2 separate regions of the Homo sapiens genome follow, and region 2 is linked to region 1. A link means that fine-mapping ties the variant in region 1 to the expression of a gene that starts in the linked region. Tissue or cell type: whole blood. Region 1 holds a variant in brackets; the other region holds the start of a gene. All regions are shown on one strand. Distances are between the middles of the regions.

Region 1 (2,756 bases):
GGCGGGAGGATCACGAGGTCAGGAGTTCAAGACCAGCCTGACCAACATGATGAAACGCTGTCTGTACTAAAAATACAAAAAATTAGCTGGGTATGGTGGCAGGCACCTGTAATCCTAGCTACTTGGGAGGCTGAGGTAGAAGAATCGCTTGAACCCGGGATGCAGAGGTTGCAGCAAGCCAAGATCACACCACTGCACACCAACCCGGGTGACAGTGCGAGACTCCGTCTCAAAAATAAATAAATAAATAAATAAATAAATAAATGAAAATCGAAAAAGAAAAAGAGAAAAGAAAAAATAGAAGATCTAGGTACATATCCATACAGTAAATGTACTGCTCCTTTTAACTGGCTGCATAGTATTTCTTAGCAAGGATGTGCCACCACTGATTAAGCCAGGGCTCTACAGAGGGACATGTGAATGGGATCCAGTCCTTTTGCCATGATATGCATTATAATGCAATGAATGTGTGCACATGCTTCCTCCTGTATGTGTGCGAGTGCACCTTGGATAAATCTCTACAAGCACCTGGCTCACTGGACCTGTAGGTTTGATTTTGAGAGATATTAGAGAGGTTGTTTTCTGCAACGTGCCAGGAAGGCGCTGGTTACAACCTCGGCCACTCAGCGTGTTCACGGACTATCTAGGCCGCCCCCCTGAGGAGCTGTCTGGAACTGCATCTACACGCAACAAGGATTTGGGGTAGCGGGGTAACTCCAACGTAGCCCTACACGTGATTCCTTCCAGACCCTGAGCCAGGACGTTCAATCTTTCAAATTCACCCTGGAGGCTCCAGGGGCCTAGAGTTTCCATTTATTATTCACTTACATGGCGAAATCCCATCTATCTTTTTTTTTTTTCTTTTCCTTTCGAGACGTAGTCTCGCGCTGTTGCTCAGGCTGGAGTGCAATGGCAGGATTTCGGCTCACTGCAACCTTCACTTACCCACCACCACACCCGGTTAATTTTTTGTATTTAGTAGAGACGGCGGTCTCACCATATTGGTCAGGCCGGTCTCGAACTCCTAACCTCAGGTGATCCACCCGTCTTGGCCTACCAAAGTGCTAGGATTACAAGCATGAGCCACTGCGCCTGGCCTCTCTATCTTTTAAAAATAATTATAATTTGGATGAAATTTAGATGAATTCTTTTTTTTTCTTTTTTTTTTTTTTTTTTTGAGACAGAGTCTCACTCTGTTGCACAGGCTGGAGTGTGGTGGCGCGATCTCTG[C/G]TCACTGCAACCTCTGCCTCCCGGGTTCAAGCAATTCTCTGCCTCAGCCTCCCGAGTAGCTGGGGATTACAGGCGCCCGCCACCACGCCCGGTTAATTTTTGTATTTTTAGTAGAGATGGGGGTTTCACCATGTTGGCCAGGCTGGTCTTGAACTCCTGATCTCGTGATCCACCCACCTCGGCTCCCAAAGTGCTGGGATTACAGATGTGAGCCACCGCACCCAGCCTAGATGAATTCTTTAAAATAAACTTACATACATTTATTTAAAAGTTAACGTTACATGATAAACGGTGTGCATGACAAATCAGTATCCCCAGTCATGAAAAATAGCAATGGTTTCTGTCTCTTGGGAGCCAGCATTCGCATTTAATATTTTTATTTTTTATTTACTTATTTATTTTTTTGAGTCAGAGCCTCGCTCTGTGGCGCAGGCTGGAGTGCAGTGCGGTGATCTTGGCTCACTGCACGCTCCGCCTCCCGGGTTCACGCCATTCTCCTGCCTCAGCCTCCTGTGTACCTGGGACTACAGGCGCCCGCCACCACGCCCGGCTAATTTTTTGTATTTTTAGTAGAGACGGGGTTTTATCATGTTAGCCAGGATGGTCTCGATCTCCCGACCTCGTGATCCGCCTGCCTCGGCCTCCCAAAATGCTGGGATTACAGGTGTGAGTCACCGCGCCCGGCCCCGCATTTAGTCTTAATGATAATCTGGTAGGTAGGTGCTATTATATTATTACTTTTTATAGAGAGGAAACTGAACCATAGAGAACTAAGTAAGCGCCCACGGGCACTGAGCTGGTAAGAGGCAGATCCAGGGTTTGAACCCCCCAAAGACGGGTGCCACACGCCTCTTGATAGGAAGTAAATCAAAAATAAAGACAAGGAAGGCCGGGCGCGGTGGCTCACGCCTGTAATCCCAACACTTTGGGAGGCCGAGGCGGGCGGATCATGAGGTCAGGGGTTTGAGACCATCCTGGCCAACATGGTGAAACCCCATCTGTACTAAAAATACAAAAAATTAGCTGGGTATGATGGCGGGCGCCTGTAATCCCAGCTACTCGGGAGGCTGAGGCAGAATTTTTTGAACCCGGGAGGCGGAGGTTGCAGTGAGCCAAGATCGAGCTACTGCACTCCAGCCCAGGTGACAGTGAGAGACTCTGTCTCAATTAAAAAAAAAAAAAAAAAAAAAAGACAAGGAAAACCTGAGGCCTGGGCACAGCGCCTCACACCTATAATCCCAGAACTTTGGGAGGCCAATGGAGTCAGGATCTCTTAAACCCAGGTGTTCAAGACCAGCCTGGGCAACATTGCGAGACCCCATCTCTACAGAAAAACAAACAAACAAACAAAAACTAAAAATTAGCCGGGTGTGGTGGCGCCTGTCTGTGGTCCCAGCTACTCAGGAGGCTGAGGTGGGAGGATCGCTTGAGGCCAGGAGCTCAAGGCTGCAGTGAGCCGCGATTGCGCCACTGCACTCCAGCCTGGGCGTGCAGATCAGAGCGAGACCTTGTCTCTAAAGGAAAAA
Region 2 (2,500 bases), 200 kb after region 1:
CCCACCCCTAGGGGCCTGTGAAGCCTCCCTGGCCTGCTCCACCTGCCATGTGTATGTGAGTGAAGACCACCTGGATCTCCTGCCTCCTCCCGAGGAGAGGTGAGTGGGTCAGCCCTGTCTAGCTGGCAGCTTCACCCTGGAGCATTCAGCAGCCCCCACCATCCTCCCCACTTCCAGTTCCTGGAATGGGAGCTGCCTCCCCCACCACTACCCCCTGCGCTCAGTCAGCTTCCTCCCTCCCCCACCTCTGGCCCCCCACCCACCCAGCTAGCTTGCCCTCGGCTAACACTGCCCGTGTCACCACCCTAGGGAAGACGACATGCTAGACATGGCCCCCCTCCTCCAGGAGAACTCGCGGCTGGGCTGCCAGATTGTGCTGACACCGGAGCTGGAAGGAGCGGAATTCACCCTGCCCAAGATCACCAGGAACTTCTACGTGGATGGCCATGTCCCCAAGCCCCACTGACATGAACACCTGGACCATTCCACATTGCCATGGCCCCAGGGCCCAGATTGAGGGAATAGCCAGGTGCCAGCCCTGCCCAGAGTGCGGACAGGCCCGGGAGAGACGTGGAAGCCCCTGTGAAGGACAACACCCCTGCTTGGGAGAGAGTCCCATGTCCAGGCTCTGGTGGGGACAGGGCCCCTAGTGGGGTGGCCTTCCCCAGGCCCCTGAGAATCAGGGTTTGAGTAGGAGTGGACTCATATTGGAGCTGCAATAAATCGATAACACAGGCCCCAGCATGTTGAGTGTCCTTGGGGGACAGATCTGGGGTCTACAGGTGGCTCACACCTGTAATCCTAGCACTTTGGGAAGCCAAGATGGGAGGATCACTTGAGGCCAGGAGCTTAAGACCATCCTGGGCAACATGGCGAGACCTCGTCTCTATAAAAACAGTAAAAATTAGCGTGGAGTGGTGGTAAGTGCCTGTAGTCCCAGCTACTCGGGAGACTGAGGTGGGAGGATCACTTGAGCCCAGGGGATTTAGGCTGCAGTGGAGCGGTGATCAGGCCATTCCACTCCAGCCTGGGTGACAGAGTGAGGCCCTGTCTCAAAAAAAAAAAAAACAAAAACAAAAACAAACCACACCTGCATCTGCTGTGCTGGGCCCCCGGTTCTCTTTTCCCTCTGGGATCTAAGATGCCGCTGGGGATCCAAGGCAGAGGCCTGGGAGCCCCCATTTCCGAGGGGGAGGGCTAGCGTGGAAGGCCCCGCCCCGGCAGCTGCGGAGGGATTTGGTGGGGTCCAGGCCGCCCTTGCCACGCAGGGGTGCGCGGATGACCTGAAAAAAGCCAGAAAGAGGAAAGGTGCCGCCGAGGCTGGTCGCTCTCAGCTGGGGCTCATCGCATCCTCTACCAAGAGCGCTCCCACCACACAGGTCCCGCCCCTCCCAGGTGGGTTTCATCGGGTGGGCCCAGCGGGACAGGGCCGGGTGAAATTAGGGAGGGGGCTGGGCTGGGGCGCAATGGAGGCCGAGCCAATCCCGGACTCCTCAATGCCAGCAAAGCTTCTGGCGCCGCCCTGTCTGAACCTGGAGCGGCTGGGAGGATCCCCCTCCCAGGAGAAGCCGAGGACCCCAGGATGCTGCAGAATCAGTGAGAGGTGCGTAAGGCCAAACCCCATTCCCCGGACCCCGCTAGCACTTCACCACCTGGCTCAGTGATCAAGGGGTCATGACCTCTCTTTGCTGGGGTTATCGAGAAGTGGCAATTTTATAATAGTTACTGAAACTTACAAAGAGGTTCTGGTGCCCAGAGACACTTGGGGTCATCTAGGGATCAGAGGCCATGCAATTCCATGTCTCTGGGGCTGATGTAGGCACTCCCCAGGGATCATCCAGGGGTTATGGAGGGCAACTCAATAATAATGAAAATGATAAAAATCGTAATCATATTATGGCAAGCCAGCGGCGTGGTGGCGCGTGCCTGTAAGTCCCAGCTACTCGGGAGGCTGAGGCGGAAGGATCGGTCGAGCCCAGGAGTTCTAGGCTGCACTGAGTCCTGATCACGCCCCTGCACTCCAGGCGGGGGTACAGAGTGAGGCTCGGTCTCTAAAAGAAACACAAAGAAAAAAAGTAACCTTTTTCTCGATCCTGCAGCCAGAGGCTTGATATCCTGCCTCGGTCACCTAGGGCGGTCCCTGCCTGGGTGATCTACGGGTGCCGTAAGGGGTTGATTGATGTGGAGGGCTGGGCGTGCCTGGGAGGCCCACAGTGGGCGAGGTGAGTTGCAATTACTGCAACTCTTAAACCTTCCACCCAGAGTTAGAAATGACTGAACCTCAGGTGGGGTGTGTAGCCTGTCCAAGGGTACACAAAGAGCCGGCCCAAGTTGGAACCCCCTGGCCGGCTAAACCCAGGAGTCACCCAAGAAAACGTGACCCCACTGCCCTTCTCCCCAGGTCCCTCTGGCCTGCATGCCAGGAGTCGGTCACCGCCCTGTGCTTCCTCCAAGAGACAGTGGAGAGGCTGGGTCAGTCCCCTGCCCAGGACACCCCGGT

Evidence for each region. PIP is the estimated chance that this variant, and not a neighbour inherited with it, causes the effect.
Region 2: ZGLP1 starts here. The variant in region 1 is fine-mapped to the expression of ZGLP1 in whole blood (TOPMed, PIP above 0.99).

What each region holds. Positions count from the first base shown.
Region 1 is chr19:10,503,676-10,506,431 of GRCh38, reverse strand. No RefSeq gene overlaps it. Among named protein-coding and RNA genes, the nearest start is that of KEAP1, 1.7 kb to the right of the region's middle. The variant C/G (reference allele first, on the strand shown) is at 1,231.
Region 2 is chr19:10,308,452-10,310,951 of GRCh38, reverse strand. ZGLP1 (zinc finger GATA like protein 1) reads left to right here and starts at 1,137. Exons shown (of 5, transcript NM_001409033.1): 1 at 1,137-1,603; 2 at 2,402-2,500. The coding sequence starts at 1,467. It overlaps FDX2 (ferredoxin 2), which reads left to right. Exons shown (of 5, transcript NM_001397406.1): 4 at 12-99; 5 at 310-907. The coding sequence ends at 466. FDX2-ZGLP1 (FDX2-ZGLP1 readthrough) reads left to right here. Exons shown (of 9, transcript NR_176052.1): 4 at 12-99; 5 at 310-1,603; 6 at 2,402-2,500.